Linked DNA regions of Homo sapiens. The protein of the gene in region 6 purifies or fractionates together with the protein of the main gene of each other region. This does not show direct contact. Each region holds a gene or a part of one and is shown on either strand. Other genes may lie near its edges. The genes, in order: OSBPL8, IGSF3, MTCH1, PIGN, P2RX4, SPPL2B and GLG1.

The links.
Region 1: the proteins of SPPL2B (region 6) and OSBPL8 purify together in Homo sapiens (co-immunoprecipitation; 3 studies listed by BioGRID and IntAct, with this or other methods). This does not show direct contact.
Region 2: the proteins of SPPL2B (region 6) and IGSF3 purify together in Homo sapiens (co-immunoprecipitation; 3 studies listed by BioGRID and IntAct, with this or other methods). This does not show direct contact.
Region 3: the proteins of SPPL2B (region 6) and MTCH1 purify together in Homo sapiens (co-immunoprecipitation; 3 studies listed by BioGRID and IntAct, with this or other methods). This does not show direct contact.
Region 4: the proteins of SPPL2B (region 6) and PIGN purify together in Homo sapiens (co-immunoprecipitation; 3 studies listed by BioGRID and IntAct, with this or other methods). This does not show direct contact.
Region 5: the proteins of SPPL2B (region 6) and P2RX4 purify together in Homo sapiens (co-immunoprecipitation; 3 studies listed by BioGRID and IntAct, with this or other methods). This does not show direct contact.
Region 7: the proteins of SPPL2B (region 6) and GLG1 purify together in Homo sapiens (co-immunoprecipitation; 3 studies listed by BioGRID and IntAct, with this or other methods). This does not show direct contact.

Annotation. Positions count from the first base shown.
Region 1 is NC_000012.12:76,392,272-76,395,771, reverse strand, and holds part of OSBPL8 (oxysterol-binding protein-related protein 8), read left to right. Parts: intron 1-1,042; coding exon 1,043-1,127; intron 1,128-3,019; coding exon 3,020-3,191; intron 3,192-3,500. UniProt on the Homo sapiens protein: Lipid transporter involved in lipid countertransport between the endoplasmic reticulum and the plasma membrane: specifically exchanges phosphatidylserine with phosphatidylinositol 4-phosphate (PI4P), delivering phosphatidylserine to the plasma membrane in exchange for PI4P, which is degraded by the SAC1/SACM1L phosphatase in the endoplasmic reticulum.
Region 2 is NC_000001.11:116,664,934-116,669,117, reverse strand, and holds the start of IGSF3 (immunoglobulin superfamily member 3 isoform 2 precursor), read left to right. Parts: upstream 1-1,384; 5' UTR 1,385-1,500; intron 1,501-1,649; exon of another isoform or gene 1,650-1,757; intron 1,758-2,161; 5' UTR 2,162-2,791; coding exon 2,792-2,834; intron 2,835-4,184.
Region 3 is NC_000006.12:36,969,197-36,972,696, reverse strand, and holds part of MTCH1 (mitochondrial carrier homolog 1), read left to right. Parts: coding exon 1-45; intron 46-2,002; coding exon 2,003-2,050; intron 2,051-2,223; coding exon 2,224-2,291; intron 2,292-2,582; coding exon 2,583-2,658; coding exon of another isoform or gene 2,659-2,844; exon of another isoform or gene 2,845-3,500.
Region 4 is NC_000018.10:62,103,557-62,107,056, reverse strand, and holds part of PIGN (GPI ethanolamine phosphate transferase 1), read left to right. Parts: coding exon 1-71; intron 72-175; coding exon 176-268; intron 269-1,422; coding exon 1,423-1,514; intron 1,515-3,500.
Region 5 is NC_000012.12:121,220,129-121,223,628, forward strand, and holds part of P2RX4 (P2X purinoceptor 4), read left to right. Parts: intron 1-1,784; coding exon 1,785-1,856; intron 1,857-1,965; coding exon 1,966-2,038; intron 2,039-2,601; exon of another isoform or gene 2,602-2,639; intron 2,640-2,818; coding exon 2,819-2,915; intron 2,916-3,500. UniProt on the Homo sapiens protein: ATP-gated nonselective transmembrane cation channel permeable to potassium, sodium and calcium. CTP, but not GTP or UTP, functions as a weak affinity agonist for P2RX4.
Region 6 is NC_000019.10:2,345,684-2,349,183, forward strand, and holds part of SPPL2B (signal peptide peptidase-like 2B isoform 2 precursor), read left to right. Parts: intron 1-3,500. UniProt on the Homo sapiens protein: Intramembrane-cleaving aspartic protease (I-CLiP) that cleaves type II membrane signal peptides in the hydrophobic plane of the membrane. Functions in ITM2B and TNF processing.
Region 7 is NC_000016.10:74,597,115-74,600,614, reverse strand, and holds part of GLG1 (Golgi apparatus protein 1 isoform 3 precursor), read left to right. Parts: intron 1-3,500. UniProt on the Homo sapiens protein: Binds fibroblast growth factor and E-selectin (cell-adhesion lectin on endothelial cells mediating the binding of neutrophils).

The DNA.
Region 1 (3,500 bases), on a different chromosome or scaffold from region 6:
TGTCAGGTACTTGAATATTTTACATGAAATCATTTATTTAATTCTCATACCTATAAGGAGGATACAGTTTCTTCCCATTGTACACATAAAGAGATTGAACCCTGTTTTTCTAGCATGGAGCCATGATTGAAACCCAGGCAGTCTGATTCCATGTCCCACTATATACTGGTTTTAGGAACTGGCCCATAAATTGTAAAGCTATTTGAAAATGCAGATTATTACGGTATTTGTTAAAGTCATATTAAATTTTTTTTCTGTTTTCGTTTTGAATCTACATCTTTACTTTCTAATGTTATGCTTTTTGGAAATTTATTTCATTTTTTGACCTAATAACTTTAAAGAACCCTTTGAAAACAACTTAAAAATTATGCTTTTGTATCAAAATTATACTTTAAATTCAGTACTTAGTTTTCTTTCCAGATTCGTGTCTACCTAAGTTTAGCATTGGTGATACTAATTAGTGTTGGTATTGTATACTTCTAAAACAAACAACCCTAGCCAACAACAACGACAGAATTTCTTTTTCTTTCATGTTTCTGGAAAAATAAAATCAGCTTATATAGTTGGTGTTTAAAAACAGGTGTATGTCATTGGTTATAAAGTGGAGATTTATTTTTCCCTAGACCCAGTTAAAGTTCATTTCTCTTTTTTTAAATTATAATTCTATTTCCACATGCTTTCTTTAGCCTTCTAGAAATTTAGTATTTCTTATCTCATTAGTTGTATCCATGGGATGGACATTGTTAAAATTTGGTTTAATATGGTAAACTTTAGGTTCTCTTTAGTATGTAAGCAGTATGTAGAGATAATATTTAAGTGATAATTCATTTGTTCAGTTTTCTGCTAAGGAGATATATTTGTTAGAAAATTTTTCTTAATACTTAACATTTGCATTCTCAAGAATGATGAAATTAAAGCTCATTTGCCTTTAGATTATAATCCATACCTGATTTAGATTATTACAGATAATATTGGATAGTGTAAAGATGAGATCTCATAATAATTACTCTATACCATTTATTTTGTTTATTTTGTTATTAAGGGTCCAAAAGGTGAAGCGGTTGGATCCATTACTCAACCCTTACCTAGCAGTTATTTGATCATCCGAGCTACTTCAGAGTCAGATGGTAAGTATAGTTTTTGATGGATTGGATTTTGGTCTTCATTTTTAAGAGTTTTTTTAATGCCACTTTGTATTATTCTGGGGAAATATATTTTTAGTATGGCATTTGCAGCAGAAGCATGGTAATCATAAATTGTTTTGAATGCTAAATATATGAGTAACTTAATAGACAAAAATCTGATAGAAAGGAAGCATTGTGTGATTTACTGAAGAGTTAGCAGTTCAGAGTTTTCTTCTTCATCCTCCATGGACATATTAACACCTTTTTATTTGTTAGTGGTCTTTATGGTACTCTTAAAGATATATTTAATACTTTTTATATTTTACTACTAAATGTTACCATTTATGAGACATATACATTGTTTTGGTTTTGTTTTTTTTTATGTAAGAGATTCGAGTACAACCTTTTTTATTCCTCCTTTAACACTTAATTCATGAAGCAAATATGGAGAGAGAAAAACTTAAATGATATCAAGGTAACTTTAAAATCTTAATAATTAATAATGGATTTTGTCCTCACTTTCATGCTTTCATGTTTCATAGTTTAGACAAGGTTGGTATAGGGAATCTTCTAACCTTCCAAAGTTTACTTTTATCTGATTTTTTTTGTTTTGTTTTGTTTTTGTTTTTGAGATGGAGTCTCGCTCTGTTGCCAGCCTGGAGTGCAGTGGCACGATCTCGGCTCACTGCAACCTCTGACTCCCTGGTATAAGTGATTCTCCTGCCTCAGCCTCCCGGGTAGCTGGGATTACAGGCACATGCCACCACGCCCAGCTAATTTTTGTATTTTTAGTAGAGACGGTTTCACCATGTTGGCCAGGATGGTCTCACACTCTTGCCCTCATGATTCGCTTGCCTCGGCCTCCCAAAGTGCTGGGGTTACAGGCGTGAGCCATCGCACCTGGCCTCAGATTTTTTTTTTTTTTTTTTTTTTTTTTGAAACGGAGTCTCACTCTGTCGCCCAGGCTGGAGTGCAGTGATGCGATCTCGGCTCACTGCAAGCTCCGTCTCCCGGGTTCACGCCATTCTCCTGCCTCAGTCTCCCGAGTGGCTGGGACTACAGGCGCCTGCCACCACACCCGGCTAATTTTTGTGTATTTTCAGTAGAGACAGGGTTTCACTGTGTTAGCCAGGATGGTCTCGATCTCCTGACCTCGTGATCCGCCTGCCTCGGCCTCCCAAAGTGCTGGGATTACGGGCGTGAGCCACCGCGCCTGGCCGATGATTTTTTTAAATTAAAATATAGGTATGAGCTTTCAATATGAAGATGCTTTACTTGGCTGATATTCCCAGCAAATCTTGAAGTGATATATATGAAAATTAAGAGCCCTAAACAAATATAAATGAAAAGTTTTCTGCTAATTCACTTTTAAATTTTTACTTAAAAAATAAAACTATTAATGTTTCTCTTAACTAATATGGCAGTTAATGGTAGCATTATGCAGGCATTTTCCTGACTTAAAAAGTTTCATACATACAAGTAGAATGGTTGTTAATCTTGAGGATAGACCTCCTATTAACAAAAACAGTTACTTCAGATAGTTTGTTTGTAGTAGAATCATAAATCCTCAAGTGTATTTTATGTACCTTGCTTGATACCTTCAAATTATACTGCATGTTAATGTTCTAAGATTTGAAAAATAAAGTATGTTTATTTTAGATTGGGTATAGTTTCTAATGCATGCTGTATACTATTCATTTATCAGTGGTGTGCTTAGTATGTGAAAAGCATTTGAAAAACGGAAAGATTTCATTAAATTCTAGCAAGATGTTATGTTCAGATTAACTTTTCCAGTGCATGTTTCTCAAAGAAATAGTGGTAACAGGGTAAGTTAAGATGCATGCTAGTTTCATAGTTTTAAAAATTATAGTGCTTATGAATCTGTGTTCTTTTAGGAAGGTGCTGGATGGATGCTTTGGAGTTGGCTTTGAAATGTTCTAGTCTTCTTAAACGTACAATGATCAGAGAAGGAAAGGAACATGACCTGAGCGTTTCATCAGATAGCACACATGTGACTTTCTATGGCTTACTACGTGCTAACAATCTCCACAGTGGTGATAACTTCCAGTAAGTAGATACTGCCGCTGAGTTGGTAATGTTTCAGAGACCATACTGTTCACAAAATTAGTTGGCAGGCCTAGAATTTTAGTAGTGTATCTAGGACTGAAATTTGCATATCTTCCCATTATATGGCCTAGGAACCGGCTTAAAATTTGTTTAGCTGCTATAATCAGGTGTAGAAATGTATTTCCTTGATTCCAGCCAACGTGATTTACTTTATCTTTCCCAAATATAGCCATGCTAATTATTCACCTTGTCTGTGCATGATGTCCCTTCTATTAAGAATGATTTCTGCCTACTCCTCCTTACGCTTTT
Region 2 (4,184 bases), on a different chromosome or scaffold from region 6:
AGTCCCAGTGACTCAGGAGGCTGAGGCAGGAGAATCACTTGAACCCGGGAGGTGGAGGTTGCAGTGAGACAAGATTACACCACTGCATTCCAGCCTGGGTCACAGAGTGAGAACCTGTCTCTTAAAATAAAATGAAAAATAAAACGTATATCTGATAACCATAGTCCCTTACTCAACACCTTCAGTGGCTTCCCAATGGTCCCAACCCCTTAACACACCATACAATGCCCTCTAGGTTCTGGCACTCGATTTCTTCTCAGCTCATTTCTTGTCACTTCTCTCCTACAGTCAAGTTTGGGCCCAGCAGACTGTCCTGGTCCTCTAACTGGGCTCCTTTCTGGGCCTGCAGAGGTGCTGTTTCTTCAGTCTGCGATTCCTTACCTCCCCTCTGTCTCTTCCTCTGCTGCTGCCTTCTGTTCTTTGGCATTCAACCGAGTTTTCCTTTCCTCTGAGAAGCCTGGGACCTACCCCGACCAAAGCTCCCTCCTCCTTGCCCCTCCCCCAATAACACAGGGTTGGGGTCTCTGCATTTGCTTCCTCAACACTGTACTTTTCTTGTCATGTCTATTTTATGGTCTGTGTCCCCACTAGACTGCAAGTTGCATGAGGGCAGGGCGGTCTATTCTGCTTTGGTCGCCTCGTGACGGTGTCTACCCAGCAAGTTGTGTGTGTTGGGTAAGTAGTGAGAAAACGAAAAAGCACTTGCTTTACAGGGCGGTTGGTCATAAAATAATAATAGCTTATATTTACTGACCACTTGTGATGTATCAGGCACCATTCTAAATGCTTTACAAGTATGTCACAGATTTCTCCCATAACCCTCTTAAGTAAGGGTTATTTCCTCCACATAGCAGATGGGGAAATTGAGGCACAGAGAGGTTAAGTAACTTGCCAAGGGCCACAGCGAGGAAGTGGAGGAACCGGCGTTAGAACCCAGGCTGTTTCCAGAGTCCAAATTCTATCCAAGAGTGAAGTGCAATATGGGGTTCCACTTCGTGAACAGATTCAAGTCTCCAAAGGGCTTTGTTTTTGTTTCCAGGAGGAAGGACGAGCTTCTGTGCCGCCGGCTTCCCAGGTTATGGGTGGCCAGCTGGGCTTTGGGAAGGGCCTGTACATCTCGCCGGCGGCCCCGGAGTCTGGGTGTGAAGCCCTGATTAACTTGCCGGGCTGCTCGGCCCACACGCCAGCCCTGCCCAGGTCCTCCGGTGCCCCGGGCCACCCTCATGCCCCCGCCAGGCCCGGGGCCGGGACTCGCGTCTCCAGGGGCGGGGCCGGGGGCGGGGCCGGGCCTCTCTTCGAGGCCGCCGCCCTGGCCCCGCGCTCGCCTCGCCGAGTGCGGCGGGCCGGGCTGGAGCTGGAGGGGCGGGGACTCGGGAGGGGCCGCAGCGCGGCTGCTGGTGCCGTTGCGGGAGAAGAGGAAGCGGCGCGTCCCCTGAGGCGTGCGCCTGGATGGACTGAAGGACGGTCCGACGCGCGCGGAGGGAGAGGGCCAGGGGCGAGGTCAGGCTCGGCGGGGGCGCGGGCGGCGCCCGGAGGGGGCCCCGGGGAGGGAGGCGGGGAGGCGTGGAGCGGGGAGCGGGGAGCGGGGAGTGGGGAGCGGGCCCGCGCCGGCTGAGCTCCGGGTCGGGCCCGAGACCCCTCCCCTGGCTGGGCGGGCGCGCTGCGAGCGCGCTCCGGCAGCTGAAAGCGGAGCTCCGGACTCCCTTCTTCCCCGGTTTCTTTTCTTTCCAATCAGCGAGATATAAACACCCTGCAAGGTAAAACAATAGCGGGGCCACCTGGGACGCGTCGCGCGCAGAGCTCCCACGGTTGGGGCGGGGGCCGGGAGTCGCGGCCCCACCGCGGAGCCCCTTCCCGATTTGCCCTGGCGGAGGGTGGGGCTACCTGCGGCGCCCGGGCTCGGTAGGAGGTGACGGGAATTCCCAGGAGTGAAGCATTTGGTGGAAGTATTTCAGGAACAATCGGGCTTCCCACTGTTGCCCTGCTCTGGGCAGGGAAACTGAGGCGGAGGGAAAGACAGAGACTTGCCCAAGGTCAGAATGCAGAGGTTGACTGTCCTGGTCCAGGAACCGGACCCAGGTGTCCGGACCAGCTCAGCGCTCAGCCCCAGTGGGTTTTGCAGCTTTGCCTTTGATAAAAATCTCTGTTGTGTTTGTTTTAGAAATCTGCTCGCGCTGGGGTACCGCTTCAGGGCTGCCGAACGCCAACTTGCTTCGTGTGCCCTAGGCAGGCGTGGGGCAGGTGGCGCCTCCGTGACCTACCACCATGGATGGAAACGGACTTTTTGGTGAAGAAACCCAAACGGTTGATGCCAGGCAGGGTGATTTGGCCGTCAAAGGTTTTGACGAAACCTGCCCTGTTCTCTCTGGGGAATCCGAATGAGGGAGATCACAGACACCTTCACTGAGAAGCCAAGGACATTTCTGTATAATCAGTGGATGAAAGGATTTTCTCAGACCCTTTTTTCCGTGCTTCTGGAGGATTAATCCACTACAGTCTGCAATTTCAGTGGAAACTGCAAGGCACACGATGTGGCAGGAGCCGGGAGCGACTTCCGAATTGTTGTGGACCCTTCCTGTAGCATAGGGGAGTTTTCACACTTGCCTCCACTCCTCCCCTTCCCCCCAACTCCCTCCTTCTGATCTCTTCTTTTTAATCTGTTCCCATTTTCCGAGTTAAGTTCTATTTCCAAAACTGTTCTCTGGAGCTATAAGTGGATTGCCAGAAATGAGAGATTAGGAGCTGGGAGAAGAGGAAGCGCCTTGTGTTGTGTCTCCTGGAGGCTGCCGACATGAAGTGCTTTTTCCCGGTGCTGAGCTGTCTGGCTGTGCTGGGTAAGTGGCTCTGCTTATCAGTGCAATCGATGTGAAAGTTTAACCTGCTCTTGGTTCCTGTAATTTCTCGTGGTTCTTTTTCATCAACACTAGGATTTGGGGGACACCAGGAGGCGGTCGGTGTGTGTCACAGGTTGGAGTAGAGTACGAAGAGGCCCGTTTCTAACCCAAGAGCAACGGTGGAATATCATTTGTTATCTATAAGAAGGAACATTTGCTGTTCTTAAAGTGTCTGTCTTGGCCCCTGGGGTGAGGTCCTGCATCTGCACATCTGTGGTTTAGGGACTTCACATGGCTGGTGGGCTGCTGTCTTGTAGCATGTCAAACATGGATGCTCTGGTGTTTTCACTTCTTTGTTGGGCTGCATTGATTCCTAATTGGGAGTGGGAACATCATTCCCCTCTGTCTCGAAAGTTGGTTTGGGTGATAATGATGGTGCCTTTTTTGAGGTGGAAATGGGAGTAAGTGGGATGGGGGTTGAAGGGATGCTTTGCCTACCTGAGTGGTCTGAAGGCTAAAAATGTGAGGGCACTAGTCCTGTGTCTCCTCACCAAGGAAGCTTAGATCGTAGTTCTGGGAGAAGGAGAGCCTGAAGAAAAGGAAGCTGCCTGGTAGGGGAGATTTTAGGATTGGCTTTTGTGCTCCCACAAATCAGAATGCCTAGAGTGGGAAGAAGAAACTATGGCCCTGAGAGGTGAACCTTTGACACCCCTCTTAAGGTGCAGATGCAGGACCTTCACCCCAGTGAAGAGGCCCCTCTGCTCAACAATTGCCTATTCTTTTTATGCCATTGAGCACTGTCTTCAGCGTGCTGTCTTAGAACACATCTCAGGTCTAGGATAAACTTCATTGCCAGGATTTGGTGCCATTCTCTTTCCCCATCTCAGACCTCATACATGAGCACACCCCCTGCCCTCTCTGTAAGGCTCGGTCCTCTGCATTCAGAAGGGATTATGATTGTTGCCTACAGGGTTCACGTCTCCAAATCTAGGTGTCTTGCACGTAGGGAACTTAGGGTGATCTGTTGGCAGTGGAGATTGCTTCCATGCATTGTCTACACCCTTGCAGTAGGTAACAGGTGTGTGGGAAGAGAATGGACTTTAGAATTAGAGGACCTGAGTTCCTATCCCAGCTTCACCATGATTGACATCTGAATGTCAATAAAACAGAAACAATAAAACAAGGGAAGGTGTGATAACTAAAGGATATAAGGTGTCCTAAATGCCTTGACTGCCTTAAATAATGTCTGAAACTCATAATAGATTTGTGCAATCAGTGGTTCTCAAACTCTCGTGTGCATGTTGGAATCACTGGGGAAGCTTTTAAAAATTCTGATTTCAGGCAACAACC
Region 3 (3,500 bases), on a different chromosome or scaffold from region 6:
GACACCCCAGGGGGGCTGGGAAACGACCAGAATCCAGGTTCCCAGGTTGGTTGGAACAAGGACTTGTCCTTCTTTCCGTGTGCTGCTGATGCCCAGGGTCTGGGACAAACTCAAGGATTCTGGGATTCTCAGCATCAGGCCGGGAGGGTGAGAGAGGACCTCTCATTATCCCTGGAGTCATCTTTGTCTAAGGGGAGAACGGCCTCAAGAGGCGAGATTCCAGATTAGTACCCAGACCTGGGAGGAATTAATGGAATGCTTGTCCCTGGGCGCCTTAGAAACAGACCCCAGCTTATCTAAGGCTGCTCCGAGGCAGTGACCCAACTAGGGCTCAGGAAGTCAGAAGATAGACCAGCTAATAGTGATCACCTCTTGACCTTTGTGTCACGTCTTTTGCTTTTTAAAACCCTTTTGTGAACGTTATGGCCTTTGATCTGACGGCATCCTAGTTGTGAAGGGAACAGGGCAGGTATAATGTTCGTTTACCAATACAGAAATCGAGACCCAGAGATCACAAATTCTGGAGAGGCTCTGGGCTCTCCAGAGTCACTCAGCTGGAACTGACAGGGCTGGAATTAGATCCCTGGCCAGGCCAAGGGTGCATTCCTCTGAGTTTTTTCAGATCTGCTAGGAAGTGTACAGTCCGATACACCCTCCTATTTTGTTAGCTGTGGTCTACACAGCCTAGTATACATAGACCTTTCAGCAGGTCGGGTCAGGCATAGGAAGGCCTGGTCCTTCTACACAGCACTTGTTGAGGAAGGCCATCCAGGTACCTGAGGGGTTGACTGGTTCTGCCTGAACCAAGATAAGAGGTAGGGAGCAGCGATGGCTGGGAATTGCAGTGTCCAGACATTCTCACAGTGGGGATCACCTTCAAGAAGGATGGCATTCCTTCTTGAAGTGGCTTTCCCTCCCAGGAGGCTAGGAGGGCCTGGGGACGTGTCTGCCAGAATCACCTGGGTGGGAAGGGGGTCATGTTCAGCATGTGTGTGTGTGTGGTACATGTCTGTTCTGTGTGGTGAGGAGTGCCCCATCCCAGATGGGAGCCTCTGCTTGCAGGGAGACTGGCCACTTGACCTGGGCAGGTGAGTCTTCACTGGCCTTTCGATGTAAGCAAATTAAAGTGGCTCCATAGAGACCCACCCCATCTGCAATCACAGTGGTACATTCCTGCAGTTCTGCCCCTTCTCGGGGGGCCTTGTGGGTGGGTAAGCTGCTGCTGTCACATACAGAGCAAGGGTGGCCAGGAGTGCACCGCTAAGTGGTTTCTCATCTAGGTGGGCAGCTGTCTGACCAGAGGCTGCCGTGCTTACATCAGCAACAACAGCAGTCAACAGATTTGTCTAAAGTGTTTTTCGAGTGCTTTTCTGTATGTGGCTTAAAGGCCGAGGTGAGGCTGCCGGGCTGTCAAAGCCACTCAAGCAGACATCTGAGCAAATCTCTGACCAAGAACCCAGGCCATCGATCTGGTGGGATGGCCGCTCCACAGGAAGCTGAGGGTGGGGGAGTCACCTTTCCTCACTAGGAGCTGTTTGCTTCAGCAAAGCAGGATTTGAGGAGTTGGGGTCTGAAGGGGGAAAAGCTTGCTGAGGTGGAGGTGGCGATAAGCCTGGACTTGCCCTCACCTCACCCCACAGGCCAGGATTCGTCTTTGGGTTTCAGGGTGCATGTCTGTCTTAGCACTGACTGCGTGCCAAGCCCTGGATGTTGATCAGGCAGACACGGGCTCAGCCCTTGAGGCTCACAGTCCGGTGGGTTGCACAGGCAGCGGCAGCTGATCCCTCTTACCGGGTCTCCTTCTCGGGACTCCCTTCAGTCCACTTACCCCGTTTCTGCCCCCCAGGCCTTCTCTGGGCAGTGACTGTGAGGGCTGACAGGAAAGGCATGTGCAGCGTGCTTGTGAGGAGCTCAGCACAGAGGGTGGGGTGAGGGCATGTGTTGCTGAAGTCTGCATCCTGAGGTGCCTGTGGCAAACCACTCTTCCCTTCTGTCTCCTCAGTTCAGCCAGGCCCTGGCCATCCGGAGCTATACCAAGTTCGTGATGGGGGTAAGTTGTGCCAGCTGTCCTTCCTTCCCACTGCCTTGCGGACCCAAGCGGGGCCTAGGAGGCCAACCCTGGTAATGGCTGGAGGCAGGTCTTGGTACAGGGTGTTGGCGTGGTGTGTCCCTGCTCCCTGGGCCGGGGTGGGTCACTGGCACTCAGGCCTCTCTGGGTTTCAGATTGCAGTGAGCATGCTGACCTACCCCTTCCTGCTAGTTGGCGACCTCATGGCTGTGAACAACTGCGGGTAGGTGTGCGCCCCTCTACTTGCCACTCTACCTACCAAGGCTGTGGGGTGGGGGAGACCCACCGAGCCCTTCCAGCACTCTGCCCCCTCCCACCTGCTCTGTGTGTAGGCTTGGCCTGCCAGGCACCCTGGCTTCCGCTGGGATTTCCCAGCACCCCCTGGGGTAAACTGTGGTGTCAGGGGTCAGGGTGTGGATGGGTGGTAGCCTGAAGGCATTCCTTCTTGAAGTGGCTTTCCCGTGGCTGGCTGTCTTCCACTGTTCTCTGCATCTACACTCTCCTTCTCCGGCAGGCTGCAAGCTGGGCTCCCCCCTTACTCCCCAGTGTTCAAATCCTGGATTCACTGCTGGAAGTACCTGAGTGTGCAGGTGAGCAAGCACTGGACGGCGGAGGCCTTTCCTGTTCTTTGCTACATCCTTCAGCTGAAATGGTTTTGTGGATGCTTCATTGCATGCAAAGATAAGTGGTTTCATGGAATTCAATATTGTGAGGAGATACTTGGTATCTATAAGGCATTTAAGTTTTCATCTTACATAATTTCAGAAAGGATTTGAGGTGGCTAAGTGTGGGTTTATTTTAAGATTATACATCAGACAAGACCTTTTCTTCTTTGAGTCTTAAAGACTCTTAGGATAAGGATAAGAGAACTCTGGCCCAGGTGGCAGGTGGTAAAGCCCAAGAACTGCTTCTCCTTCAAGTAACATGGGCTGAAAATTCGAGGTCTGTAACCAGTTGAGCTGAGTTCCTGGGTTGTTAGGGCGGCTGGCATTGGAAACCGACTCCTCCCTCCTGCAGGACATTCCTGGGCCCAGGAGAGCCTGTGGGTGGGGCTGGGCCACGTGGGGAACTGGCAGCAGTACCAACCTTGGGTTCTCGTGTTCTGTACCGAAGCTACCTCTCCGTAGCTGGAGCTCTTGGGCCCAGCAGTCAGGGGTCCAGGCTTTGGCCGAGGGCAGAACCTTGCCTTTTCCTGGCCTTGATTTGCCTCGCAGTGAAATGGGGCAGTGGCCCGGAGGGAGCCAGAACTCTGAGTGGCCTCGAGGCTGAGAAGAGGACAGATGGGAGGGAAGCAGGGAGGAGAGCCGCAGTTCTTCCCAGTGGCCCTGGTCAGCGTGAGTGTGTCTCGTCCTCCCTATGAGCACTGAAAGAGTCCTAGACCACTTGGGCTCTGAAGCAAGAGGGGCAATGAGCCTCCTCTCTAGGGCTCTCC
Region 4 (3,500 bases), on a different chromosome or scaffold from region 6:
CAGTGTTGACCTATCCTCTGAGCCATTTTGTTGGGTACCTGTTAGCCTTTACCCTGGGAATTGAAGTATTAGTAAGTAACTTACCAGATTACAACATTTGCAAATTTCTTTTATATATTTGTAACTAGTATTAAATGACCTTATTTTTCATTCCTTCTTTGGAATGCATTACTAGGTTCTCAGTTTTTTCTACCGCTATATGCTTACCGCTGGACTTACTGCCTTTGCAGCTTGGCCATTTCTCACTCGGCTGTGGACTCGAGCAAAGGTATGAGTACTCATTTTGACATAGGACAGATTAGTAACTACTTTGTTTTGACACATGTGTAACTCAAGGAACTGTTTATTTTTAAAGAAAAGGGTAGAATGTGTTCTTACATAAAAGAGCCTAGTCATATTGATAGGAGGACTGACATTACCTGTAAGGTTTCAGTAATTCACTTAGACTTTCACATCAAAATGGGCCAGTTATGTGGTAATTGAAATGCTATATAAGTTGTACTGATATGTCCATCTCTGAAGCATTTCCTGGATTTGTTTAGCTTCAAATATCTTGATAATGGACCAGGCAAGGAGTCGTCCAGAGCAGCACAGCCCAGTGGCTTAGGGGTCTGCACTCTGTGAGTCACAGGAAACACCTCCCTCGTTACCCTGAGCCACTCAGTTTTTTTTTTTTCTGGATAAGTATGTATTTATTATAGATTATTAAAAATATAGTCAGTCTTGATTTTCTTCCTTCAGCTACATAGGGAATTACAATGTGCTTCTACAAAGAATGCACTTATATTTCCACTTTGATACTTTTTGATAGAAGTAGCAGGAAGATATCTTCTTTCTACTCTGAGAATTTATTAAAAAATCTTCAATGAATGGGATTATCGATCTTTTAATTTGTGAGGGATCTTAATCTAATTACAAAAGTAGTTTTACTTATTTTCCTTCTGGGCTCAGTTGTTTGGTGATTATTGTAGGCCACCTTTTTTATAGATGTCTTCATCAATATATGGTCTAACCTAAATTGAATGAAGCACTTTATGCAGGTTTAAATACTGGTTATTTTATTTACTTGTCATGGACCTGGTACTACTTATATTTTAACTTCTCTGAGCTCTGTTTCATCATCTGATGTATTGGGAATGATAATACCTGCCTCTTGAGGTTATTGTGAGAATTAAATGAGAAAGTGCTCATATTATACCTAATACTATACCTGCTATGCAACAGGTCCTTCACAAATAGTAACTATTACTTTTTAAAGTAGTTAGCTGTTGATTCTGCTAGAAAGTATTTGAAAAATAAAATAATAAACAGCTGTAAGGCTTTGCATTTTCCTTTTACCTTCACAGTCATATAGTCTGTGAAACACTAATGATAGTTTTCTATACCATATTTGTCTAAAGATAACTTTTTTCTTGATTTTAGATGACCTCACTGAGTTGGACTTTCTTCTCTTTGCTCCTGGCAGTGTTCCCACTGATGCCGGTTGTAGGTCGAAAGCCAGACATCTCTCTAGTGTATGAATAATATTGTATTTTATTCTATTTTCAATACACTTTTTTTTCCTCAATTAACACTGTAAAATTTGAACCTAATCTTGGTCAAGAATATAAAATCATGTGAACTAACGGGAATTTAAAATACCAATATCAAACCATTAGTCATGATTTTGGCCTAGGTTCTAAGAGTCATTAAACCTCCTAGTAGGTGCTTTCGGGCTTTCATAATGAAATTGTGCCACTGATAACTTAAAATCCCGCCCATTTTTTTTTGTTTAAGTCTAGAAGGTTTTCTTTCTTTTATGCTTGGAGGAATCAGTAAAAGTTTTAGTTTCATGTGAAAAAACATTCTGTTGCCAAAACAAAAATGTCTCAAAGCTACTGTGTTAGCCCTCTTTGCTTTAATCATGTCCACACTAAAATGTCATGTAAAAATTAAATTTTCTGCTATTCTAAATTGAATGTAAAGATCTCCATGGGAGGAAACTCTATTCACCTTGCCAGCTTTCCCATGTTTAACCACTCAAATTGTTTGAAAATTCTTCTGCATATCTTACCTAAATTCCTTACTGTGCTGCTATATTTATTTCTCTTCAATAGACCTAAATAAATTTATAAAATAACTGGTTACCTTTGCTTTTAACTGCACTTTATTGTCAAGTAAATTATGGGCTGTTTGAGTGTGCATATGATCATTATTTCATTTAACATTTCCTCTCTTATTGTCTAATCATGGGAATTAGAAATTAAATCATCTTTGTTACTTTCTTCAGAATGCTATAAGCATTTTTTAAAACATTCTAACCAAGTCTGTAATGGATAATGGTATATATTTTTAAATCAAGGAAGATTAACTAAATACTATTTTGTAAAAATATGTGCTGATTTATGAGATTCTATACATTTTCTCCTATTTGTATGAGAATACCAATATGCAATAGACCAGGAAATATCCCAGGAAGTCACTTTATTAGCAGAGCTCAAAATAATTGTATTGAATTCTAACACCATACTATCTAAGCCATACTTTATTAGAGTGTTACTAGGTAAAAACATTTTGCAACTGTCATAACCTATAAATAGTATATGACAAAATGAATTCCAATATTTTCATTTATTTCTTGCTTCAGATAGCTCTGTAAGCTCTTGTATTGTTTCTATAAAGCCCCTTTCCTTCCCTTTGTCAGTCTCTGCCTATCAGTCCTGCTCAAGCAGTATTGCCATAGTTGAGCAGAATTTATCATATGCTAAAAGGGAAGGAAATTGTATAAATTTGCCACTTGCGTATTCTACTAAAGATGAATGTGGGAAGCAAATAAACTTGTTAAAATATGAGAAATCTAATTTATATTTTAGAAAATTATATTGTTTCCCTCTAAATTTAAATTGCTCAGTGACTTTAAGTTTATCCTACTAGCTATATTTGCAACTTATTTATTTTGATTCCTGGTTCATGGGGAAATTTCTACTCTCCTTTTCATCTGTCACAGCATCTCCCTTCTTCAGAAAATCACAAAGATGTGATTTTGTGAAACATTTAAGGATACAATTAAAGGAAAAAGCAAACGTGTACAACATGGTTGTGATGTCTGTTACTCCAGTGTTCTAAAGTAAAAACATATTTGCCAATAAGTTTAGATACCAAATTATTTTAAAAATTAAGAAAGAGAAAAAAAGCAAAGAATCTTGATCATATGTGACTATTTTTTCCTAAATTTTAATGATAATCCATGTTGAATATATGATTACCTTTCTCCTTAGGATTCTCAAAGAGTGTATTTGAAGCATCACAACCAACCATCAAGCATTTTTCTGGGGATTCCTGCTTTGCATTCTTCTTAGGTGTCCAGCTCTGCTTTTTGCTCTTTCTTTTTTCTCTTCAACCAATTCCTTTTCTCTTAGTTCTATTTGGGTTCTGGATTTCATCCTCAGCATAATTCTGGCTGTGCTATGTTATTCAGATGTTAAGGAGGTGAGAAAGAGCTCAACAATAGGGCACCATTT
Region 5 (3,500 bases), on a different chromosome or scaffold from region 6:
TGATTTATAATTTCAGTTAGGAAAGAAAACCAGCCAGATTTGAGCCCCATGAGGCCTCATGTTTTTATTCCTCTGAGATAATCTGGTTGGCAGGGAATGTTTTTAGCACTTGTTGGCTCTTTCCCTCAGTAAGTCAAGTTTGATTGAGAAACCATTGTTTCAGTTTGCAGACCCCCCCCTTTTTTTAACTGCAGTCAAATTCACTTATAGAAACTAACCATTTTAAGTCGGGCACAGTGGCTCATGCTTGTAATCCCAGCACTTTGGGAGGCTGAGGCAGGTAGATCACTTGAGGCCAGGAGTTGGAGACCAGCCTAGCCAACATGGTGAAATCCTATCTCTACTAAAGATACAAAAATTAGCCAGGTGTGGTGATGTACACCTGTAGTCCCAGCTACTCAGGAGGGTGAGGCTGGAGAATCGCTTGAACCCAGGAGGCGGAGATTGCAGTAAGCCAAGATCGTGCCACTGCCCTGCAGCCTGGGCGACAGAGCAAGGCTCTGTCTCAAATAAATAAATAAATAAGAAAGAAATTAACCATTTTAAAATGAAAAATTCAGCACATTTAGTGCATTCACAGTGTTATGCAAGCATCACCTCTATCTAGTTCAAAACATTTCCATCACCCCAAAGGGAAGCCTCGTATGTTACACAACCACTCCCCATTCCCCACTTCTCTCACTCCCTGGCAACCCGTAAGTGCTTTGTCTCTATGGACTTGACTGTTCTGGAAATTTCACATCAATGTAATGGTATCCTGTGTGGCCTTTGTGTCTGGCTTCTTTCACTCAGCATCATGTTTTTGGGGTTCATCCATGTTGTAGCCTGTATCAGTGCTTTATTCCTTTATTTTATTTTTTGAGATGAAATCTCACTCTGTCACCCAGGCTGGAGTGCACTGGCGTGATCTCGGCTCACTGCAACCTCCACCTCCCAGGTTCCAGTGATTCTCCTGGCTCAGCCCCCTGAGTAGCTGGGATTACAGGTGCCCGCCACCACACCCGGCTCCTTTTGTGTGTGCGTGTGTCTGTGTGTGTTTGTGTGTGTGTGTGTGTGTGTGTGTGTGTGTTTTTAGTACAAAGTTTCACCATGTTGGCCAGGCTAATCTGGAATTCTTGACCTCAGGTGATCCTCCTGCCTCAGCCTCCCAAAGTGCTGGAATTACAGGTGTGAGCCACCATGCCTGGACCCTTCATTCCTTTTTATTCATGGCTGAATCACATTCCATCATGTGACTAGACTAGGACAGACATTTGGGCTGTTTCCACCATTTTTTTTTTTTTTTTGAGACAGAGTCTCGTGTCATCCAGGCTGGAGTGCAGTGGCGCGATGTCGGCTCGCTGCAACCTCCGACTCCCGGGTTCAAGCAATTCTCCTGCCTCAGCCTCCCAAGTAGCTGGGACTACAGGTGCCCGCCATCACACCCGGCTAATTTTTGTATTTTTAGTAGAGACGGGGGTTTCACTGTGTTGACCAGGCTGGTCTTGAACTCCTGACCTCGTGATCCGCCCGCCTCAGCCTCCCAAAGTGCTGGGATTACAGGCTTGAGCCACCGCGCCCGACCTGTTTCCACCTTTTGGCTCTTGTGAAAAGTGTTGCTCTGAATATTTATGTACAAGGACTTGTTTGAGTCACTGTTTTCCATTGGGTTATAAACTTTGATGGGAGAGAGCGGGAGAGCACGCGGTCAGTGTTTGAGTTGTCCTCTTCAGTCAGCGTCTGCCTTTCTTGGCTCTCCGTGAGTCCTCTGAGCGTGGCTTGCCCGTGCTGTCTCCCCTCTGCAGGAGGAAAACTCCCTCTTCGTCATGACCAACGTGATCCTCACCATGAACCAGACACAGGGCCTGTGCCCCGAGGTAGGAGGCCCCCGGGAAGAGCCCCAGGCCCCACACCCCTCTCCACGCCTGTCCACCTGTGTGTGGGGCCGGGCCACGTGGACTTTCTTTTCGCTCCTTCTTTTTCCAGATTCCAGATGCGACCACTGTGTGTAAATCAGATGCCAGCTGTACTGCCGGCTCTGCCGGCACCCACAGCAACGGTACGAGCTTGTGGCCTCCTGGGGAGGGCGGCCCCTGAGCAGATCGCCCCCACTGTGGAGCGTCTCTGATAGAGAAATCTTCCCAATTCCTTCACATGACCCTGGGTGAGCCAGGTGCCGAGGCTGGGGTCCTGGAGCCCCTCTACATTCACTGCTGTCATTGGAGCCCCACAAGCCATCCCAGCTCTTGCCCTACTGTTTTTTTTTTTGTTGTTGTTGTTGTTTTTTCTTGTTTTTTTTTTTGTTTTGTTTTTTTGTTTTTTTGAGCCAGAGTCTCGCTCTGTCACCCAAACTGGAGTGCAATGGCATGATCTCGGCTCACTGCAACCTCCACCTCCCAGTTTCAAACAATTCTCCTGCCTCAGCCTCCCGAGTAGCTGGGATTACAGGCATGCACCACCACGCCCAGCTAATTTTTGTACTTTTGGTAGAGATGGGTTTTACCATGTTGGCCAGGCTGGTCTCGAACTCCTGACCTCAGGTGATCCACCCGCCTCAGCCTCCCAAAGTGCTAGGATTACAGGCATGACCCACTGTGCCTGGCCTCTTGTCCCATTCTTTAGCTTGGCATCACCCTGGCTGAGATGTGGCTGGCACACAGGTAACTGTCTTCCTCCGATTCTAACTCCTGGACAGTGACACTGTCTAAATCCCAGATTTGCACAGCTCAAGACTGGCTGCATGGGAGGCTGGATGGGGCTCTCACTCCCTACTCCAAAAAGGTAGAAAATAGGAGACCCCTGTGGACATGGGACCCCCCTGCCACCCTTGTGCTTGTAGGAGTCTCAACAGGCAGGTGCGTAGCTTTCAACGGGTCTGTCAAGACGTGTGAGGTGGCGGCCTGGTGCCCGGTGGAGGATGACACACACGTGCCACAGTGAGTCCAGCCCTAGGGAAGGAAGTGCCTTTTTGTTTTGTTTTGTTTTAGACACAGTTTCACTCTGTATCCCAGGTTGGAGTGCAGTGGTGCGATCTTGGCTCACCACAACCTCCACCTCCCGTGTTCAAGTGATTTTCTGTGCCTCAGCCTCCCGAGTAGCTGAGATTATAGGCACCCACCACCACGCCCAACTAATTTTTTGTATTTTTAGTAGAGACGGGGTTTTGCCATGTTGGCCACGCTGGTCTCCAACTCCTGACCTCAAGTGATCCACCTGCCTTGGCCTCCCAAAGTGCTAGGATTACAGGCGGGAGCCACCACACCCAGCCAGAAGCCACCACACCCAGCCGGAAGCACCTTCAACTCTGCGTGTCAGCCTTGAACAGAGGTGGTCAAGGAGTTACACCTGTGTGTTGTGGCTTTTTGTGTGTTTCTGGTGTCTGTATGAAGTCAGGCTGCCCTAGGATGGCTGCTCTCAACCACAAGGCAGCGACCATCAGTGGCAAGATGGGCCACAAGTAGTCTGTCACTCACGAGAAGGGTGCAGGTGACTGACTTCCTTGTATGTTAGGACTCTGTCAG
Region 6 (3,500 bases):
CCCCTCTTTCTCATTCTTCCTGGGCCTGTGCCTCCGTCCCCGTCTTTCTCATTCTCCCTGGGCCTGTGCCTCCGTCCCCCTCTTTCTCATTCTCCCTGGGCCCGTGCCTCCATCCCCGTCTTTCTCATTCTCCCTGGGTCCGTGCCTCCGTCCCTGTCTTTCTCATTCTCCCTGGGCCTGTGCCTCCGTCCCCGTCTTTCTCATTCTCCTTTGGCCTGTGTCCACATCCTGGTCTTTCTCATTCTCCCTGGGCCTGTGCCTCCGTCCCCGTCTTTCTCATTTTCCCTGGCTTCCATTGTTCTGTTCTTTTCTTTTCCTTTTCTTTCCTGTTTTCCTCTTTTTGTCTTTTTCTTCTTTGCCTTGTCTTCTACTGTTTCTTTTGTTATGAACGTATTTACGCAAAGTGCTGTTATCTGTTGACCCACATTGTTTTGAAAAATGTCCCCCACCGCAGCTGGCCCTAAGGAAAGAAGCTGTGGTGCTTTCTGGTTCCTGGGCACAGGGCCAGGCCAGGCCTCCTCTGCCGAGCCACGCCCCCGACCCTGCCCTCCACGTGGCTCCCTAAACGGCCACTCCCAGGGCCAGGAGAGTTCAGGCCGGCCTGTCCCCTCACACCTGCCTCCTGCAGCTGCAGGTGCCCCTGGCTTTCCCCTCGCCCGATTTTACTGTCTTCATGATTATCCTTTAAAATCACGGCTGAGGCCGGGTACGGGGGCTCATGTCTGTGATCCCAGCTTTCTGGGAGGCTGAAGTGGGAGGATTGCTTGAGTCCAGGAGTTCAAGACCAGCCTGGGCAACATAGTAAGACCCTGTCTCTGCAGAAGAATGCAAAAATTAGCCGGGCATGGTGACATGTGCCTGTAGCCCCAGCTACTCTGCAGGCTGAGGTGGGAGGATCGCTTGAGCCTGGGAGTTCAAGGCTGCAGTGAGCCATGATCGTGCCACCGCACTCCAGCCTAGGCAACAGAGTGAGACCCTGTCTCGAAAAAATAATAATAAAATGAAAGAAAAAATAAAAACACAGCTGCAGAGATTTGTCTCTCCTGAAACATAACTTGTCAAGTTGTCCCTGTAATTCCTGAGACTGAAGCCGCTGAGGCTTTATAGGTGCCAGCCCTCCCTGTTTGTGTCTGTCTGCGTCTGTTGATGATGGCTGATGGACACGTGGATGGCCTAAAATGGACCAATAGGGACGCTCCCCGTGGCATGGCGTCAGAAATACAGAGATGGGTGTTAGAAAAAGTGCCGGGAGCAGTGTGCTTGCTGGACACAGCGGCTCTTTTTTTAAGAGTGTTCTAGCAAATAATTAATTTTCTCAGAGCTTTATTTTGAAATAATTTCAAATGACAGTTGCAGGATCGCTACAGAGAACTCCCGTGTGCCCCGTTCTCAGAGGGACTGGTCATTTCTTCACATTCGCTTGATTCCGTTCTCTCTCCCTCCACACACACTTACGCGCTCTCATTCACCTGATTCCGTTCTCTCTCCACACACACGCGCTCTCATTCGCCTGATTCCGTTCTCTCCCTCCACACACACACTCACGCGCTCTCATTCGCTTGATGCCGTTCTCTCTCCACACACACTCACGCACTCTCATTCGCCTGATTCCGTTCTCCTTCTCTCCACACACACTCACGCGCTCTCATTCGCCTGATTCCGTTCTCTCTCCACACACACACACTCTCATTCGCCTGATTCCGTTCTCTCTCTCCACACACGCGCTCTCATTCGCCTGATTCCGTTCTCTCTCTCCACACACACACACTCTCATTCGCCTGATTCCGTTCTCTCTCCACACACACTCACGCACTCTTATTCGCCTGATTCCGTTCTCTCCCTCCACACACACACTCACGCGCTCTCATTCGCTTGATGCCGTTCTCTCTCCACACACACTCACGCACTCTCATTCGCCTGATTCCGTTCTCTCCCTCCACACACACACTCACGCGCTCTCATTCGCTTGATGCCGTTCTCTCTCCACACACACTCACGCACTCTCATTCGCCTGATTCCGTTCTCCTTCTCTCCACACACACTCACGCGCTCTCATTCGCCTGATTCCGTTCTCTCTCCACACACACACACTCTCATTCGCCTGATTCCGTTCTCTCTCTCCACACACACGCGCTCTCATTCGCCTGATTCCGTTCTCTCTCCACACACACACACTCTCATTCGCCTGATTCCGTTCTCTCTCCACACACACTCACGCACTCTTATTCGCCTGATTCCGTTCTCTCCCTCCACACACACACTCGCGCTCTCATTCGCTTGATGCGGTTCTCTCTCCACACACACACTCACGCGCTCTCATTTGCCTGATTCCGTTCTCTCCCTCCACACACAGACTCACGCGCTCTCATTCGCTTGATTCCATTCTCTCCCTCCACACACACTCATGCGCTGTCATTCGCTTGATTCCGTTCTCTCTCCACACACACTCACGCTCTCATTCGCTTGATTCCGTTCTCTCTCCACACACACTCGCGCTCTCATTCGCTTGATTCCGTTCTCTCTCCACACACACACACTCTCATTCGCCTGATTCCGTTCTCTCTCCACACACACTCACGCACTCTTATTCGCCTGATTCCGTTCTCTCCCTCCACACACACACTCGCGCTCTCATTCGCTTGATGCGGTTCTCTCTCCACACACACACTCACGCGCTCTCATTTGCCTGATTCCGTTCTCTCCCTCCACACACAGACTCACGCGCTCTCATTCGCTTGATTCCATTCTCTCCCTCCACACACACTCATGCGCTGTCATTCGCTTGATTCCGTTCTCTCTCCACACACACTCACGCTCTCATTCGCTTGATTCCGTTCTCTCTCCCTCCACACACACTCACGTTCTCATTCGCGTGATTCCGTTCTCTCTCCACACAGACTCATGCACTCTCATTCGCCTGATTCCATTCTCTCTCTCCACACACACTCACACGCTGTCATTCGCTTGATTCCGTTCTCTCTCCACACACACTCACGCTCTCATTCGCTTGATTCCGTTCTCTCTCCACACACACTCACGCTCTCATTCGCTTGATTCCGTTCTCTCTCTCCACACACACTCACGCGCTCTCATTCGCTTGATTCCGTTCTCTCCCTCCACACACACTCGTGTTCTCATTCGCTTGATTCCATTCTCTCCCTCCACACACACTCACGCGCTGTCATTCGCTTGATTCCATTCTCTCTCTCCACACACACTCACGCGCTCTCATTCGCTTGATTCTGTTCTCTCTCTCCACACACACTCACGCGCTGTCATTCGCTTGATTCCGTTCTCTCTCCACACACACTCACGCTCTCATTCGCTTGATTCCGTTCTCTCTCTCTCCACACACACTCACGCGCTCTCATTCGCTTGATTCCGTTCTCTCCCTCCACACACACTCGCGTTCTCATTCGCTTGATTCCATTCTCTCCCTCCACACACACTCGCGTTCTCATTCGCTTGATTCCATTCTCTCCCTCCACACACACTCACGC
Region 7 (3,500 bases), on a different chromosome or scaffold from region 6:
GACTGCAGACATGCGCTACCACACCCGGCTAATTTTTGTATTTTTAGTAAAACGGGGGTTTCGCCACACTGGCCAGGCTGGTCTTGAACCTCTGACCTCAAGTGATCTGCCTGTCTTGGCCTCCCAAAGTGCTAGGATTACAGGTGTAAACCAGTGCACCCGGCCTCTTTTCTTAAGCAAGGACTGTCTACTTTAGCTTTGTCCTTGTTCTTTTTTTTCTTTGAAAGTCTTACTCTATCTCCCAGGCTGGCTGGAGTGCAGTGGCATGATCATGGCTCACTGCAACCTCAAACTCCTGGGCTCAAGCTCTCCTCCCACTTCAGCCTCCCGAGTAGCTGGGACTATAGGTACACAACACCACTTAGCCTTGTTCTAAGCGGAAATATACGTGAACTCATGAATTTGATGTGGTAGGTATACTTCTCTAATATATATGAAACTAAATATATGACTATAAAATATAAGTACCAACACATACCACCTGAAATCATCTTGCATATTACCAATAGCACATGCTTCAGAAAGCACTAACACTGGATTATCTTTCTCTGTTGTTTTTTTGTTTTGTTTTGCTTTTGGTTAAGACGGAGTCTCGCACTGTCACCCAGGCTGGAGTGCAGTGGCGCGATCTCACCTCACTGCAACCTTTGTCTCCTGTATTCAAGCGATTCTCCTGGCTCCACCTCTCTAGTAGCAGGGATTACAGGCACCAGCCACCATGCCTGGCTAATTTTTTTTTTGTTTTTTTTTTGAGACAGAGTCTAGCTCTGTCACCCAGGCTGGAGTGCAGTGGCGCGATCTCGGCTCACTGCAAGCTCTACCTCCCGGGTTCACGCCATTCTCCTGCCTCAGCCTCCCGAGTAGCTGGGACTACAGGCGCCCACCACCATGCCCGGCTAATTTTTTGCATTTTTAGTAGAGACGGGGTTTCACCATGTTGGCCAGGATGGTCTCGATCTCCTGACCTCGTGATCTGCCCACCTCGGCCTCCGAAAGTGCTGAGATGACAGGCGTGAGCCACTGTGTCCGGCCGAGGCTTGGCTAATTTTTGTATTTTTAGTAGAGACGGGTTTTCACCATGTTGGCCAGGCTGGTCTTGAACTCCTGACCTCAGGTAATCCCACCCGCCTTGGCCTCCCAAAGTGGTGGGATTACAGGCGTGAGCCACCGCTCCTGGCCTTGGATTATCTCTTAAGATTCTTCCAGCTCCGGTGCTTTGTGATTTTGTGATCTGTGGGAATACAAAACGTGTGCAAGAGAGTCGTAGCACAGGTGGAAAGGGGAGATGCTTTGGGGAATTATTAAAGGGGCTGTATTGACCGAAATAGAGAACTTGAAAATGTTTTCAGTCCAGGTCATGAAGGGTCGTATATTCACCTCTAGCTGGTTCTCCAAGTAAAGTCCAGAAATGGGATGTTTTTATCCCTACCTCAGATAAAAATATTACAGCAGATAATTGAGAATTACCTGTAAAGTAGCATTGTCGTTTATGGCAAATACTTTTTAAGAAATCTCTTGATGAGAATGCTTTACAGTATATAGTTGCTTAATAATTCATTGTTCTGTAGAAGGAAATAAAATACTTGAACAGTCCAAAAGATGAAATGCTGTATTTCTCTTTTGTGCATTTCTCCTAATGTGTTCAAAACAAATTTACTCAGGAACAATAACAAAAATCTCCTCTTTATATAAGTTATATATATATATATTTATATATTTGTTGTTGTTGTTTTGAGGTGGAGTTTCGCTCTTGCTCAGGCTGGAGTGAAGTGGAATGATCTCGACTCACTGCAACCTCCACCTCTCGGGTTCAAGCCATTCTCCTGCCTCAGCCTCCCGAGTAGCTGGGATTATAGGCACTTGCCAGCACACCCGGCTAATTTTTGTAGAGACGAGGTTTCACCATGTTGACCAGGGTGGTCTCAAACTCCTGACCTCAGGCAATCCACCCACCTCAGTCTCCCAAAGTGTTGGGATTACAGACGTGAGCCACCGCGCCCGGCCTTATTTATATATTTTTAAAAGCAGCAGTTAAAATGGCTTATAGGCTATCATGTAAATTAATTTTTCTTCTTTCTTTTTTCTTTTTTTTTTTGAGATGGAGTCTCATTCTGTCACCAAGCTAGAGTGCAGTGGCGCGATCTCGGCTCACTGCAACCTCCACCTCCTGGGTTCAAGTGATTCTCCTTCCTCAGCCTCCCGAGTAGCTGGGACTACAGGCGCCCGCCACCACGCCCGGCTAATTTTTTGTATTTTTAGTAGAGACGGGGTTTCACCATGTTGGCCAGGATGGTCTTGATCTCTTGACCTCGTGATCCGCCCGCCTTGGCCTCCCAAAGTGCTGGGATTACAGGCGTGAGCCACCGCGCCCGACCAATTTTTCTTCTTTCAGCAAACATTTATTGAAACCTGTGTGCAAGACACTGCTCAGTGTTCAAGTATACTACTGCTACTTATAATGGTTAGCATTTACTGAGGGTTTTCTGTGTGCCCTGTTCTGAGGGACTGGATGCTTTCTAGGCGTTATCTCATTTAATCTTATGAGAGATGTTTTATTATTATCATTCTTATTGATTTTGTTTGTTTGATTTTGTTTTCGAGACAGAGTCTTGCTCTTGACGCCCAGGCTGGAGTGCAGTGGTGTGATCTCAGCTCACTGTAATCTCTGGCTCCCGGGTTCAAGCGATTCTCCTGCCTCAGCCTCATGAGTAGCTAGGACTACAGGTACACACCACCATGTCCAGCTTTTTTTTTTTTTTTTTTGAGGCAGTCTCACTTTGTCACCCAGGCTGGAGTGCAGTGGTGCGATCTCAGCTCACTGCAAGCTCCACCTCCCGGGTTCACGCCATTCTCCTGCTTCAGCCTCCCGAGTAGCTGGGACTACAGGCGCCCGCCACCATGCCCGGCTAATTTTTTGTATTTTTTAGTAGAGATGGGATTTCACTGTGTTAGTCAGGATGGTCTCAATCTCCTGACCTCGTTATCCGCCAGCTTCGGCCTCCCAAAGTGTTGGGATTACAGGCGTGAGCCACTGCGCCCGGCTAATTTTTGTTTTTTTAGTAGAGGCAGGATTTCGCCATGTTGGCTATGCTGGTCTTGAACTCCTGACCTCAGGTGATCTGCTTGCACCACCATCTATCACCGGAGCTTTTTTTTTCTTTTTTCTTTCTTTTTTTTTTTTTTTGAGATGGAGTCTCACTCTGTCATCCAGGCTGGAGGGCAGTGGCATGATGTCAGCTCACTGCAACCTCAGCCTCCCTGGTTCAAGCGATTCTCCTGCCTCAGCCTCCTGAGTAGCTGGGACTATAGGCGCACCCCACCACGCCCAGGTAATTTTTGTATTTTTACTAGAGACGGGGTTTCGCCATGTTGGACATGCTGGTCTTGATCTCTTGACCTGGTGATCCTCCCGCCTCGGCCTCCCAAAGTGCTGGGATTACAGGCGTGAGCCACTGTGCCTGGTGAGTTTTGTTTTGGGTTTTTTTTTTGTTTGTTTGAGA